2 separate regions of the Homo sapiens genome follow, and region 2 is linked to region 1. Evidence: fine-mapped expression QTL. Tissue or cell type: aorta. Region 1 holds a variant in brackets; the other region holds the start of a gene. All regions are shown on one strand. Distances are between the middles of the regions.

Region 1 (8,104 bases):
CTCTCCTCTTTTCCTTGGATGACCTCAGAGACCTTATTTACATTTGTAGCCTTTTGAGCCCCTTTCCTTAGACCTTCTATTAATGCCTCACGGTACCGTCTTAGCCTCTCCATGTCTGGTCCCTCGTTCAGGTCCTATTGGGGGTCTGTTCCTGGCAGCTGAATTCTTATATATTCTTGGGGGTTTTGGTAATTGGCTGGGACGTGCTTCTCTAGCCACTTAGTTGCCGCCTGGAGCACCCTTCACCTTTCACCTGTATTAAAGAGGTACATGAGCAGCTGGTGGCAGTCAGCCCAAGTAGGATTATGAGTCTGTATAATAGTTTGGAGCAAGTCAATTAAAGCTTGAGGCTTTTCAGTGTAAGATGGAGTATTATTTTTCCAATTGAGGAGGTCAGCAGAGGTAAAAGGTTGATACACAAAGGCACGCCTTTCCACCATGTGTCCGTCCTCATCTACCCCAGTATATCACTGCTCTCTCAGGGGCATTTGGATTCCAGTCTTGGGCTGTAAGCGAGCTTTCAAGGGAGGAGTTTCTCCCGTGGCTTCACTTCCTCTTTTGTCTACTCTGGGTGGTCTGGGGTGTGGTTATCTGGTGGAGTTGTAGGTGCTGTGGGCTCAGGAGTGGGGAGCCCTTCCTCTTGATAAGGAGGGGATACTGCTGGTACCAATTCCTGCTGTGACTCTTCTGGTGTTGGGTTGGACAGGACTTTTGGTGCTGACTTCCCTCGGCGGGTGGGATCGAGAACCTTCCTTAACTAACTGTCCCTTTGCTACTAGTACTGCTGCTGCCTGTCCTCTTAACCACTGCGGGGGGTCCAAAACTAGCTGTAACCAAGAATCTATATGTGAGAACTGATCTGGGTGCCCTGGCTTACAGGTTACCCTGTGCCATACCTTCGAGACAAGGGACCTGTCCAGGCTTCCTTCCGATGGCCAACCCACCTCTAATGCTGGCCAGTCTATCTCACACAAAGCTCTAAGTTTTCCTGGTGTCATAGTGACTCCAGAGTCTCCCTTAAATCCCTTTTTGAAATTTTTCAACATAGTTCCTAGTGGGGTAGGCTTACTTTGTGTCTGACCCATGTTTCCTCGAGACAAAACACCATGCTCACACCACAAAACAAAGAACGGGTAAAAAGGGCACACACACACTTTTACAGTTTACGCCAAGCCAGAATCAAAACCAAAATCAGAGTATCAAGAAATCCAAGCCAGGTCAAAACCAAAACCAAAGTATCAAGCAATCCAAGACAAGTCAAAAACAAAAACCAAAGTGCTGGTACAGGCACACTGTGGGTGATCAGGACACGCTTCTACTCAAATGGAGTAGGCAAGTTCCCAAGACCAGTCCTGTCAAGCGATTCAAACCAAGTCAAAACCAAAACCAAAACCAAAGTGCTGATAAAGGCATGCCATGGGTGATTGGGCCATGCTTCCACTCAAATGGAGTGGGCAAGTTCCAAGGACTAGTCTTACCAAGTTTCAGTTGTCCGGACTCCAAGTGCCAGTTCCTTCCCTGTGTTCAGCCACTGCGTTGATCCTCCACAGGGGCCTGCCATGCACTGCTCTGACGAGGCATTCCACTGGGGCAATTGCCTACCTGGGAGCGCTCTGAGGATCCGTGTCGCTCAAGCTGGCCAGAGTTCCCCGCGGGGATGCTCCACAAGGCAGGCCTAAGCTGCCTAAGGGGCTGCCTCAACTGTCCGTTAATCACTTTGCTTCCTGGTCAGGGAACCAAGAAATGTAGCAGGACAAGCCACAGACAAAACCCCTCAGACACCAAGTTAAAGAAGGAAGGGGTTTATTCAGCCGGGAGCATCAGCAAGACTCCTGTCTCAAGAGCCGAGCTCCCTGAGTGAGCAATTCCTGTCCCTTTTAAGGGCTTACAACTCTAAGGGGGTCCGCTTGAAAGGGTCGTGATCGAATGAGCAAGCAGGGGGTACGTGACTGGGGGCTGCATGCACCGGTAATTAGAACAGAACAGGACAGGGATTTTCACAGTGCTTTTCTATACAATGTCTGTAATCTATAGATGACATAACCGATTAGGTCAGGGGTCGATCTTTAACTACCAGGCCCAGGGTGTGGCGCCGAGCTGTCTGCTTGTGGATTTCATTTCTGCCTTTTAGTTTTTACTTCTTCTTTCTTTGGAGGCAGAAATCGGGCATAAGACAATAGGAGGGGTGGTCTCCTCCCTTAGACCCACTTAGACACTCCCCGGTTTCTGCTCACTCAGGGCTGGAGGGTGCTGCATGCTTGAACCTCTTTGGCAGAGGGAAGCTTTGACCCCCACCCCAGGATCAAGGAAAGAGAACTCCTAAGGTAGCTGTGATTGGGGCCACACCCATCCCTCATCCAGCCTTCAGAGGTGCCTTTTCCTCCCGCCAGAGGTGCCCTCAGCCTGGGATGGGGAAACCTCACCCGGCCCCTCCCGGCCAGGCCTGGCCCAGTTCCCTGCCCCCTGCCCCTTGCCCTCACATCCATCCTTCCTGGTCCCTTGACTCTGGAAATCCCAGCCTCTTTCATTCATTCATTCATTCACTCATTCATTTATCAATATTTGTCCCATGCTAAGCCCAGGGATGTGAAGACGAAAGAGACAGACATGGCTCCACCCTTCTTAGCACCAAAGACTCTGCTGGGATGTTTTTTCTTGATGAGTGCTGTTCGTGGGTCACACAGCTGTGTGCAGTAAGCAGCCCTTCACAGCCCCTGTTCCCACACTCAGTGTACATAATTGCAGCCCAAAAGAGCGAGGAAAGTTTTACTAAGCACCTTCCTCTAGCCAGAGGCGTCAGCTCCTTCAGTCTTCCCAATTATCATGGAAGTGGGCACAGCTTTCCATTTCACAGATGAGGAAACTGAGGCTCAGAAGGTAAAGTATTCGGCCCCAGGAGGTCAACGCTGAAGTATGATCCCACGTTTTCCTCACTCTGCCACCCTTGCCACCACTCCCCACCTCCTTACCCAAAGAAAAGAAAACAAACCAAACATTTGGGCTTTGCTTTGATCTCAGAGTCTTCATCACAGTACAACTTCTACTCTTTTTGTTTGTTAGTTTGGTTTTGGAAAACTGAAAGTAGCTCAGGGCCTCGGGTTGCTGTCTTCCAGGCCCCCAGGGCTTGGCACTGCCTCGACCCTAGTGGAGGGGGTCGCTGCCCTCTGAGAACACTGCCCTATAGGCTCCCTCCCTGCTGCCCACCCCCATAAGTTACCCCTGCCCCTTTCACCCCTCCGGGCCTCCAGGTCCAGAAACCTCTGGGCCCCTGTCCCCACTCAGACCTCAGATCCCTGGCGGGAGTTTCCTGTCCCCATCACTGCACTTTCCATGACACAAGAGGAAGTCAGCTGAGCCCAGGCTGGGTTTTCCAGGCAGCGAGGCCCAGTAGAGGCTGAAGGTGGGGGAAGGGGTTGCTGAGCCCCCAGGGCCGGGTGTCAGAACCTCCTCAACCTCTACCGGAGAGGTGCCTGCCGGTGCTGCCGTGGGCCACACCAGGTAATCTGGGGTGGGGTGTGCCTGTGTCTGTCACCCCTCTGGACTCGGTGACTCCTCAGTGCCCCCAGGTGTGCCCTCTTCACTGGGGCAAAGGGGCACTAGGATCTGGGGAAAGGGGAGGAGCTGAGGGTGGGAGGGAGGAGGTGAAGGAGGCTGAGGAATGTGACTGGTGCATAGTAGGACCTCAGGGTTTGTTGAATGAATGAAGGAAGAAATCTATGGAATGATTCCCAAAGATAATGGATGGCCTGGTGGCCAGATGAGAAGGGCAGAAGAGGCCTACAAGTGTGTGTGGATGACTCAGTGACCTGGATCCTTGGAAACCTCTGTTTGGCTGTGGGGGTGGGGGCACCCAGGGAGCTGACTTCGCAACACTCCCCTCCCCGCCAGCTCAGGAAGTGCCTCTCCTCCCCCAGCTTTGTTCCCACCCAGTTTGGCTGTTGGTGGGGGGTGGGGAGGGGGAGAAGGAGGATCTAGGATCCAGGTCTGGACATGCATGTGGCGTGCAGTGTGGTGGAGACGCGCTGGCCTGGTGGCACCTGCATTCGAGTCTCACCTTTGGCACCTTTGCAGTCAAGTCCCTGTCATGCTCTGGGCCGAGGTTGGCTCATATGTAAAATGCAGAGATTGGATGGTCCCGAGGCCCAGCTCTCTTGTCCTAGGAACCCAGCATGAAAGTGTTTGACTGGCGTGCCGAGTCCAGTCGGAGGTGGGGGATTTCTCTGTGTGGGGCCTGGAGGTTTACCTCTTTCGCTAGTGTGAGAGGGAGCTGAGTGTTGAGTGAGTGTCAGGGCTTTGGGGAGGGGCAGAAGACTGAGGATTCCAAGTGGCCTGAACAGGGTCCCGCTGGCTTGGGAAGGTGTCTCAGTGTGTGTACTTTCCCCAAGTCCAGGTGCGAGTCGAGCAGCTGGGGAGGAGGCCGTCTTGCCTGGAGGGACAGATAAGGCTCCCCCACTGACCCCCTACTTTCCTAGCCCCTCACGGACAACACTAGGCAGCCTCCTGTGGCTTCTGGAAGGTCTGTGATCAGTGGTACCCTGGCGTGAGCGGGCTGGTTGGCTCAGGCTGCATTCGCCCCCGCCTCTGCTGGGCCCTCCTCAAGTTCCCCTCACTGGGGCTGTGTTCCTGGAGCCCCTTTCCATTGCTACCTGCCCCCCAACCCAGGCCTGCTGTAGGCCTGCCCACAGCCCGGGGTGCCAGTCACACATCCCGCAGCCTGAGGCCCTGAGGACTCAGCATTCATATTCACTCTTCCGCTGCTACTGTAAGATTAGACTTGTTCGACCATAAGGCATAGGCTTTGGTTGAGAAAATAAGGCCTCCTAGTAGTGTACGACAGGTGTTAATGAAGGCTGTTGTTCATGTGAAATAATTGAGGATCAGAGAGGTTATGTGAATTCTCCAAGGTGCACAGATAACCAACAGTGAGCTTTGGACTGGACC[G/T]CCAGGCCTCCTCTTCCACAGGCACCCCTTGCCCTGGTGCAGCCTCTCTCTCATCTCAGGCTGGTGCTTCTCGTGGCCATTTAGGGGTTTCGCTGTGTCACAGTAGAGATCTTGGGGGCCTAGGAGGCCGGCTGACCCAACTGTGTGTCCTCGGTGTGGCAGCCTTGGCCCTTGGAGCCTCAGATCCCATCTGTAAAACGGGTGGAACACAGCCTGCCTTGAAGGGATGTTGGGAGGCTGGCCGGGTGCACTTGTGGAAAAGGCTCACGTGGCGGTCAGCACGCAGAGCTTCAGCGTGGCTCTCAGCTTCTTAGAGCAGTGCTTAGCGTTCCTGAAGACCTGACACTGGTCAGGAGCGCTCCTGCCTTCTCTCCCCCGCACCTAGCACCCGGCACAAAGCTATTTCTTGAACAAATGAATGATTGACAGAGAAGCTTTCAGCAGGGACACATGAAACAGACTGACAAGCACACCCTGCTCCCCGCACCCCCCACCACCGCCCTGAGCTTCCAGCCCAGTGGGGAGGCTACCTGACAGGCAACTGGGACACAGCATGGAAAGGCCAGGCCTGAGGGAGCACAGAGGGGGACGCGTGTCCAATCCAGCCTCTGGGAAAATCAGGGAAGGCTTCCTGGAGGGGGTGACATCTAGATGAAGACCCAAAGGATGAGTGGTTTTCCAGCTTGGTGGTGGGATCAATTTTCCAGGCTGAGGGAAGCATGAGGACAATGACTTCTGAGTCCTGCTAGCGTAGTGGCTTCTAGATGGGTCCAGAAGTGGGACGCTGTGGGCAGCATCCTGGCTCAGCCCCTCACTGGCTCCGTGCCTAGGGTGGAGTCTCTCCCCCCGGGTCTCAGTTTATCTGTGAAATAAAGGCGCTGCACCAGATGGTCCACCAGATTCCTCAATCTGTCAGTTGAAGCTTGGAGTCTCATTTAAAGAATATCAGTTACCAGAAGCTGGAAAATTGATACAGCCATTTTTAAGGGATAAAATGGCAAAAGCCACATTAAAAAAAAATCTCGTATACACTATTACCTTTAGAGAAGCCTCCTATACTCACCAGGGTGCAAGGCAGTATGCACAGGGGTGCTGAAGTCACCAACGGATAATAAAACACGGGAAAGATAGGGCAAAGGGCAAATAAGTTCCAAACCAGCTACACTCTGGAATAGTTGGGAATATAGCCATCAAGAAAGGGCTCATAGATCCCCGTATCCTGACACAGAGAAATGTCCATGATATTTTTGCTCAGTGAAAACATTAAATTTCAGAACAATTTATATATTGCAGTCTTATTTTCATAAAATAAAAATATCAATGAGTTGAATAGTTTCTACATTTACAGAAATTAATTGTGGGGGTGAGATTTGATCAAGATGGTAGCATGAGGTTGGGTAAGGATTTTATTTTAAAAGGGGTCTGCAGAAAATCTTTTAAAGAAAAAAGTCCTGGTATTTGTTTGTATAATTATGTAAAACATATAACATTTTTATAACGTGATTTTTTAATAATAAAAATAATGCATGCTTTTGTGAAAAATTAGCAAAACTATAGAATATAAAGAAAAAATAAAACCACTCACAATCCTACCATTCATTATGACCACAGTTAATATGTTATATATTTTATTCTTTTCAATTTATAATTACGATAATCTACTGTTTCAAAATTAGTATCATGTATTTGTGATATACATGTTTATATGTACGAGGTATATATATTTTATATAAATTATATATCTTTTATAAATATACTTAAGATATATACACACAGATATCTATATGTAGATATATATAAAGAGATATCTTTGTATCTGCTTTTTTTCTTAAAGTATATCTTGAGTGTCGTGCCATGTCATAGACTTATATAACATGGTTTTTAAAAATGGGTCTACAATAGCTAATAAAAGTTCTGATTTTTACTTAACCAATCCCTATTATTGGACATTTGTGTTGTTTACTCTTTTTTTTTTTGTTTTTTTTTTGAGACAGTATCTCAGTCTGTTGCCCAGGCTGGAGTGCAGTGGTGCGATCACAGCTCACTGCTACTTTGACTTCCTGGGCTCAAGTGACCCTCCTTCCTCGGCCTTAGCTGGGACTACAGGCATGAGCTACCACGCTTGGTTAATTTTTAAAAACAAATTTTTTGTAGAGATAGGGTCTCGCTGTGTTGCCCAGGCTGGTCTCAAACTCCTAGGCTCAAGCGATCCTCCTGCCTCAGCCCCGCAAAGTGCTGGGATTACAGGCGTGAGCCACTTTACCCAGCTCCTCATTTTTTTTTTTTTGCTATTAAAAATAACTGTGATAAATATTTTTGCACAATCATATCCTTATTTCCTTTAATTAGAATTATTTGAATCAAGGATTATGACCATTTTAAATACTAAAAGCACACTGTAAAAATTGAATTAGTTACCTCCATCCCAACTTACTTCTAGTAGATCTGAATACTGATTGGCTGAGTTTACTTAAAGAGGGACACACTTGAGTAGGTTTATAACTACTTTAGGGATCAGGATTTTTCTGTTCCATGATGGGCACTCTAGGTGCCCTGTGACTGTCAGTGTGGAAGAGGTCCAGGTCCACCTCGAGGGACAGGTTTGATATAAGAATAAGACATGTTTGTGATCATTAGTGAGTGTCCAGGACTCCACCTTGGGGGACAAATTTGATATAAAAGTGAGACATGTTTGTGATCATTTACTGAATGTCCAGGACATTCCTCGAGTGACTTCTGTTTGTCTTTGATGGCGGGTCCTTCCCTTTGCCCATTGCTGGGAGGTTTGGAGGAGCTGAGGTCACCAGCCTTGTTTCAGAGATGAGGAGACTGAAGTTCTGAGAGATGAGGGGATGGGTCCAGGTGCAGTCAGCCTTGGCCTGTGGCAAGAGGCAGGTCCCCAAGGCAATCTGGAGAGAGTCGGTTCTGGTCTGGTGTGGAGGGTGGGAGGGCATAGCTCAACAACTTCTACCCCATCCACACCGATGTGGAGCGCTCACCTCGATATGTGTCCCAGCAAGCCCCAACACTTCAGCATGGGTTATATGTTCCTAATTCTGTAAGCTCTTCTGAGGCCAGGGCCATGTTGGGTTGACCCTGTGGGATGATCTGGAAACAAATACTTATTGGTGTTATATGTGGTGATGATGATAGTGATGATCAT
Region 2 (8,104 bases), 300 kb before region 1:
TCACATATTACTATTTATTATTATAAAAATAGAAGCATACCCTACATCCTGTTTTGCAACTTATTTTTCCCCCACAAACATTTTTCCACACACATAGCTACCTTAATTTTTTTTTTTTTTTGATAGTGTTTAATTCTGTCACCCAGGCTGGAGTGCAATTGCATCATCATAGCTCACTGCAGCCTCGAACCCCTGGGCTGAAGGGATCTTCCCACTATAGGTACACGTCACTATGCCCAGCTAATTTTTTTTTTTTTTTATTGAGACGGAGTTTCTTGTCACCCAGGCTGGAGTGCAATGGAGCGATCTCGGCTCACTTCAACCTCCACCTCCCAGGTACAAGCGATTATCCTGCCTCAGCCTCCCAAGTAGCTGGGATTACAGGTGCCCGCCACCATGCCCAGCTGATTTTCGTATTTTTTAGTAGAGACAGGATTTCACCATGTTAGCCAGGCTGGTCACGAACTCCTGACCTCAGGCAATCCGTTCGCCTCGGCCTCCCACAGTGCTAAGATTACAGGCGTGAGCCACTGCACCTGGCCTTAACTGTTCTTTTTAATTTTTTTTAATTTTTTGAGACAGAGTCTAGCTCTCTCGCCAGGCTAGAGTGCAGTGGTGCAATCTCGGCTCACTGCAACTTCCGCCTCCCGGGCTCAAGTGATTCTCCTGCCTCACCCTCCCGAGTAGCTGGGATTACAGGCACGTGCCACCACACCCAGCTAATTTTTGTATTTTTAGTAGAGATGGGGTTTCATCATGTGGGCCAGGATGGTCTCGATCTCCTGAACTCGTGATCTGCCTGCCCCAGCCTCCCAAAGTGCTGGGATTACAGGCGTGAGCCACCATGCCCAGCAACTGTTCTTTTTTAATGGTTATATACAAGTCCGTTGAATCAGTGCCGTAACTGATTTAACAATCCCGTATGGACAGATGTTTAGTTTGTTTACAGTGTTTTGATGTTACCAAATTTTTGGCAATAAACATTCTCATATAGCTATCTTCGCATATCTGTGGAATTTTTTTTTAATCTAGTTTTAGAAGTGAAATTGTTGGGGCTAACAGTAAAACATTACACAGTAATAACTACTACCCAAGAGTTGTACTAAATTAAATTACCACAAAAGTGTATAACAACCTGTTCCCCACACCCTAATACTGGGTGTTATAAATCTTTCTTTGCCAGTCTGATGGGTAAAAAATGTTACTTTGTTTCAATTTGATTTTTATTAGCGAGTTTGAGCATCTTGTCAAGTTTTACTGGTTCTCTGTAATTATTTTTACATGAACTGCCATTAATGTCCCTTACCAATTTTTTTTTTTTTTTGAGTCTCACTTTGTCGCCCAGGCTAGAGTGCAGTGGGCGATCTTGGCTCACTGCAACCTCTGCCTCCTGGGTTCAAGCGATTCTACTGCCTCAGCCTCCCAAGTAGCTGGGATTACAGGTGCGCGCCACCACACCCAGCTAATTTTTGTATTTTTAGTAGAGACGGCCACCATGTTGGCCAAGCTGGTCTCAAACTCTTCACCTCAAATGATCCACCCACCTCGGCCTCCCAAAGTGCTGGGATTACAGACGTGAGCCACTGCGCCCAGCCAATTTTTAAAGTTATTTTGTTTTTTCCTTAGTGATTTATGTGAGCCTTCTTTTATCCTTTCTTATATGTTGCAAGTAATTTTGTTCCTAAGTTTGTGCTTTAACGTTGATTTCAGGGATGACATATTCTAACAAATAAGGGTTTTGCTCTGTATTTCTGGGGTTATAAAACTTGTCCTACAGGCCAGGCATGTTGGCTCACGCCTGTAATCCCAGCACCTTGGGGAGGCCAAGGCAGGAAGATTGCTTGAGGCCAGGAGCTTCAGACCAGCCTGGGCAACAAGGCAAGACACTGTCTCTACAAAAAACACAAAATTAGCCAGGTATGATGTCGCACACCTGTGGTCCCAGCTACTCAGGAGGCTGAAGTTGGAGGACTGCTTGAGCCCAGGGCTTCAAGGCTGCTGTGAGCTATGATCGTACCACTGTACTACAGCCTAGGTGACAGAATGAGACCCTGTCTCAAATAAATAAATGTTTAAAAAACAAAATCTGGCCAGGTGTGATGGCTCACACCTATAATCCCAGCACTTTGGGAGGCCAAGGCGGGTGGATCATGAGGTCAGGAGATCGAGACCATCCTAGCCAACATGGTGAAACTCTATCTCTACTAAAAATATAAAAACTTGCCGGGCATGGTGGCAGGCGCCTGCAGTCCCAGCTACTCAGGAGGCTGAGGCAGGAGAATTGCTTGAACCCGGGAGGCGGAGGCTGCAGTGAGCCGAGATGGTGCCACTGCACTCCAGCCCAGGTGACAGAGTGAGACTCCATCTCAAAAAAAAAAAAAAATCCAACCAGGTGCAGTGGCCCACATTTGTAATCCCACCACCTTGGGAGGCCGACACAGGCAGATCACAAGGTCAAGAGATCGAGACCATCCTGGCCAACATGGTGAAACCCCGTCTCTATTAAAAATACAAAAATTAGCTGGGAGCAGTGGTGCACGCCTGTAATCCCAGCTACTCAGGAGGCTGAGGCAGGAGAATCGCTTGATCCCGGGAGGCAGAGATTGCAGTGATCCGAGATCGTGCCATTGCACTCCAGCCTGGGGACAGAGTGAGACTCCATCTCAAAAAAAAAAAACAAAAAACTCCTACAGAGATCCTTATTCAGAGAATTGTTAGGGATCTTAGTACTGATCTGTACAGGATACACTGCCTGCCCTGACGTGGAGTTACAACTGAACCTATTCCCCTAAGAATACTAGTGAGAAGAACCAAGCACTCTTCTTGCAGTTAGGCAGCTGGGAAGGAATCATCTAATATCCCATTCTATTGCCCATCTCTAGCCTTACAGAGCAACAAACAGGTAAATCTTGACCCAATGTATGAAGCAGCAACTTGAAACTTCAGAGACGGAGTAATAGGATATACAGATCCAGTCTATGATAGTCAACCTAGGTTATGTACTTTTCTTGTTAATCAAGTTACAGATACCAGCTTGTCTCATAAGGAGTGGAAATATTCTCTGGACAACACTTACCAAAAAACAGGCGAATTACTTCAATTCCAAGATAAAGGAGGAGCATCACCACATCCAGTACTAGGTTAGCTGTTGGATATGGTAGCAGGACACCTGCCAATACAAAAGCCAGAGTTTGCAAACAGCATATAACAGCACCCACAAGAACTGCCACACACTTGGGAAAAAAGAGGACATCAGTCTCAGCTTTCCATGAACTAGTTAGTGAGATGTGGGCATTATTACAGCAGCAGGATACATAAACTCACAATGCGACTCAGGCTCATTATTATGGTGTTTTACTCCTAACTCCAAAAGTCTCTGGGGACTCCACTCTCCAAAATGATTGGATGTACATGGGTACACAGGCCACTGAATAGTTTCTAAGGGTCACCAGTGGGCTTACAGTGGAGCTCAGCAAAGAGCAGTGATGTGGGCAGAGTCAGAATGGAGAAGCCCACATTTCTCAAACTCAAGAAATTCTTGCTGAGGGGCTGCCTATGGAATCATACTCAAAGAAGCCATCTGATGAGGAGGCCTGCCTTGCAGCGACAAAGAACTGCAGGGGGCAGAAAAGAACGGAAAATAAGAAGGTTCTTGGTAGGAATTGGCTCTGAGCTGAAGTGGGGAAGGGATGCTGTCGTCAAGCCCCAAGCCTTCCTTACCTTTATACAGAAATATGAAAAGTTCCAGCAGGAAATAGGTAGCATTATACCACCCGTTCAGAAAGAACAGGATTTCCAGCGGGGTGGAGGACAACCGTTTACCTGAAAAAGGAGCACAGAGAAGTGGGATGGGCCGGAAGGCAGCTCCCTCTCTGCTCGTATGGGTTGGTGTCTAACTTTGGGGAAACTAGACGCTGCAACTAATGGGACCGGCCACTCAGGGGCACTTCTGGTTGCTGATAATGAGGGGGCGAGGGTACGGGGGTGGGAGTGGAGGGGGCTTCCCTCCTTTCCTAGGAATCACCGTGAAACTCGACTCTTCGGCTTCAGGAATAAAAGTCAAGAGGTAACTCGCAGCTGACAGACATCTCAAAGATCTCACTCTGTCACTATTTGGGAGGGGAAGTTGGGGCGCAGAGACCAACAGATTCGCACCTGAGCCAGCCTAGAAGTGGCCCAGCCAAGGATCTGCGTTTATTTGAGCTGTGCACCTTGAGACCTTCAGGCACCCAGGGTGGGCGGGACCGCGGAAGCCGGCTTTGGACCAGGGAGGCGCGACGTCCCTAACGCTAGAGAATGGAGGGTTTAGGTCAAGCTCTGGGACAGAGGTGGGAGGGAGCGACCGAAGGGAAAGGGACCAGCGACTCACACACCTCCGGAATCTCACCTCGCGGCGCCATCTTCAGTCCCCGTGGCAGCATACGCTGCCACAGCGGCTCCCGGAGCAGCGCGGCGCTGCCGGAAACAGGGACGAAGCGGCCTGGGTTTCCGGCCCCTCTGCCCGCCCGCGGCACTCTGTGGTCACCCGGAGCTGGACGAGCTCGGGCCTGGCCGCAAGTGGCCCTCGCTCGGATGTCCCCTCTCCAGACCTAAGGGATAACGGTGACCACCCACGACGCCGTCGTCTGCAGGACCTCAGGGGTGCGGGGGAGGACCTTGGAGGCTCTCAGACTACCGGGCGTTGGGCGGAAGTGGCCAGTTGTGATAGTGTTACCAGGAGATTGGCAAATAGGTCCTACTCCCACGATTCTCTTTTTTCAACGGAAGACAAGAAAAGGTGTGAGCGACGGATCTCTGCAAATGCAGGGTGGAGTTAGCATTGGTCTTTTCTGCGGCCGATTTACCTACCAGGTAGAGACACGAAGGAAATAGAGCGTCCTTTCCAGGAACACACATAAATAAAATGAAACGAGTCACCACGCGATCCATAAAGTGGTGCAGTGGGAGCTGAGAGGACAAAGTGCTCCCAGGTGGAAATCTAAGTTAGTTTCCAAGAGACGGCCTGTGAGCTGGGCTTCAAAGCCTGCCTGATCCGGATTTGCAGCGGTAAAAGCGTGTTGCTGGCCGGGCTTAGTGGCTCACGCCTGTAATCCCAGCACTTTGGGAGGCCGAGGTGATGGATCACCTGAGGTCAGGAGTTCGAAATCAGCCTGGCCAACATGGCGAAACCCCGTCTCTACTAAAAATACAAAAATTAGCCGGGCGTACTGGCGCGCGCCAGTAGTTACAGCTACTTGGGAGGCTGAGGTAGGAGAATCGCTCGAACCCGGGAGGCGGAGGTTGCAGTGAGCTGAGATCGCGCCACCGCACTCCAGCCTGGGCGACAGTGAGACTCTGTCTCAAAAAAAAAAAAAAACAGAAAACTGTGTTGCTGCAGGCAGGGGAGTGCAAAAAGAAGGGTTTTGAGAGGACTCAGGTTGACTTGACTTGGCTGTTAGCCCGTTGTCAATCAGGGTAAAGCAGGAAACAGATGGCACGCTCCAACCAGGTAGCCTGAGGAAGGTGACTAAGCTTTATTTTATTTATTTCATTTTATTTTTGAGACGGAGTTTTGCTCTTGTAACCCAGGCTGGAGTGCAATGGCGCTATCTCTGGTCACTGCAACCTCCGCCTCCTGGGTTCAAGCGATTCTCCAGTCTCAGCCTCCCAAGTAGCGGGGATTACAGGTGCCCCCCACCACACCCGGCTAAATATTTTTGCATTTTTAGTAGAGACGGGGTTTCACCATGTTGGCCAGGCTGGTCTGGAACTCCTGACCTCAGGTGACCCGCCCCCCCCCCCCCCCCCCCCCCCCCCCCCCGCCTCCCAAAGTGCTGGGATTACAGGTGTGATTAATGCCCCCGGCCAAGAGTGACTAAGCTTTAAGCAAAGTGCTGTACCCCTGGCTAATTGGGATGTGGTGGGGCGGTAATTGTTACTTCTAGGCTTAAAAGGGAAGGGCCTGAAACAATTCCCTGAAGCTGGAGAGTAATATGTGCATAGAAGGCCTCCCACTAGGAACCCTCACACTCTAGGAGGCTAGTGGATAAATATAGCAGGGACCTCCATTTCCCTTCTCCCATCTCTGATCTCTGCTTATGTCTCCCGCTGACACAACTTAACTGCAAGCTGGAGGGCAAGGAAGCCCTTTAGGGTAAGTAGGAAAGCGCAGAGCACAGAGGTTAAGGTGGAAAGGAATCCAGATCCTGCTTCCCCATCTTCGCTGCCTGCAAGACAAGAGACATTAGAAAAGTTCCTGCTCTGAGCCTGATATGGAAAGAAAGTGGGCCAGCTGCACCTGGCGCGGTGGCTCACACCTGTAATCCCAGCACTTTGGGAGGCTGAGGCGGGTGGATCACTTGAGGTCAGGAATTCAAGACCAGCCTGACCAACATGGTGAAACCCCATCTCTACTAAAAATACAAAATTAGCCGGGCATGATGGCACATGCCTCTAATCCCAGCTACTTGGGGGGCTGAGGCATAAGAATCGCTTGAACCTGGGAGGCGGAGGTTGCAGTGAGCTGAGACCAAGCCATTGCACTCCAGCCTGGGCAACAAGAGTGAAACTATGTCTCAAAAGAAAAACAAAGAAAGTGGGCCAGCTGCTTGTTTTTGTAAATAAAAGTTCTTTGGAGAACGTCATCATGGTCACTTACTTACATGTTATTATATATTGCAGCTTTCATGCTATTATGGCAATGTTAAGTAGTTGCAACAGAGACCACATGGCCCACAGCCTTAAATACCATCTGACCCTTTAAGAAAAAGTTGGCTAATCTATGTCAGAGTATGCCACAACTTCATAGATGCCAAAAGCTGACAGTGAGGCCAAATTACTTATGGCAAACAGCAGGAACATCAGCATGGCAACCTGGGGGCCCCCTGCTCCCAAGTCCTATGAGTGACACAATGACCCCAGATGGTGCTGCACTCAAGGAGTTATGCCACAGCTTGGTGGAGCCCAGAGCCAAAGGCTCAGTACCCTTTTTAGCAAGCAGCAAATAAAGCCAGGCCCTTTCCACTGGGGAGGGAGAAATTATACTATCATCACACTATAGTCACTTTGGTCTACTTAATTGCTTCTGTGCTCAGTATCAGGAGACAGACTTTCTGGTTTGACATAGTAAGAACATGCAGGGATGCTTAGGACCCATGCAAGACTGTCCCAACAGCCAGTGCCCTTGCTAAATTGATTATTTCTAGGAGGCTTGTTATGTACATGATCACATCATCAGTAAATAAAGACATTTTTACTTCCTTCTCAATCTCTATACCTTCAATTTCTTTTTCTTGCCTTATTGCACTGGCCAGGACTGGCAGTGTAATGTTGACTATAAGTGGTGATGATGGATAGTCTTGTCTTGTTCCTAACCTCAGGGGAAGCGTTCAATATCTCACCATTAATATGGTGGCTATAGATTTTTTTTGTAGATACTCTTTATCAGATTAAGAAAGTCCCTTATTATCCTAGTTTGCTAAAAGGCTTATGATATATTTTATTAAGTGTGTTCTCTTAATCCGTTGAGAGGACTATATGATTTTTCTCCTTTATTCTGCTAATATGAATTACATTGATTTTCAGAGGTATGACCAACCATGTCTTCCTGGAAAAAATAAAAAACCCATTTGCTTATGAGACTGTACAGAAAAAACTTAACATAGCAGACCTGAGGCTGCTGTCTTTGGAGAGGCCCAACTGCAAGGTTGACCCTTGCCTGGCGTAAGGGAACTTGGCTTTTGGTAGTGTTCCCACCAGTTTAAAGTGGCTCACAGTGCCTAAACTGTACAAACAATGTGGCTTATGCTAAATACCTGTTCTCCTTCTCAGAGTCTGGAGTTTTGAAACATGTTAGGCAGAGGGTGCCTTCATGATCAGCTCCCAGTAAAAACCTTGGGGGCTGGGTCCAGTGGCTCATGCCTGTAATCCCAGCACTTTGGGAAGCTGAGGCAGGAGGATCAATAGAGCTCAGGAGTTCAAGACCAGCCTGGACAACACAGTGAGACCCTGTCTCTACCCAAACAAAAAAATTTAGCCAGGCATGGTGGTGCACACCTGTAGTCCCAGTTACTTCGGAGGCTGAGGCAGGAAGATTGCTTGAGCCCAAGAGGTAGAGGGAAGAGGC

Evidence for each region. PIP is the estimated chance that this variant, and not a neighbour inherited with it, causes the effect.
Region 2: TMEM216 starts here. The variant in region 1 is fine-mapped to the expression of TMEM216 in aorta (GTEx, PIP above 0.99).

The regions. Positions count from the first base shown.
Region 1 is chr11:61,087,691-61,095,794 of GRCh38, reverse strand. LOC105369325 (a long non-coding RNA gene) reads left to right here and starts at 3,437. Exons shown (of 2, transcript NR_188502.1): 1 at 3,437-3,498. It also overlaps a transcript of CD5 not described here. RefSeq lists enhancers at 2,874-3,836, 4,115-4,164. The variant G/T (reference allele first, on the strand shown) is at 4,942.
Region 2 is chr11:61,388,949-61,397,052 of GRCh38, reverse strand. TMEM216 (transmembrane protein 216) reads right to left here and starts at 4,466. Exons shown (of 5, transcript NM_001173990.3): 1 at 4,388-4,466; 2 at 3,721-3,822; 3 at 3,077-3,169. The coding sequence starts at 4,421. RefSeq lists an enhancer at 3,740-4,701.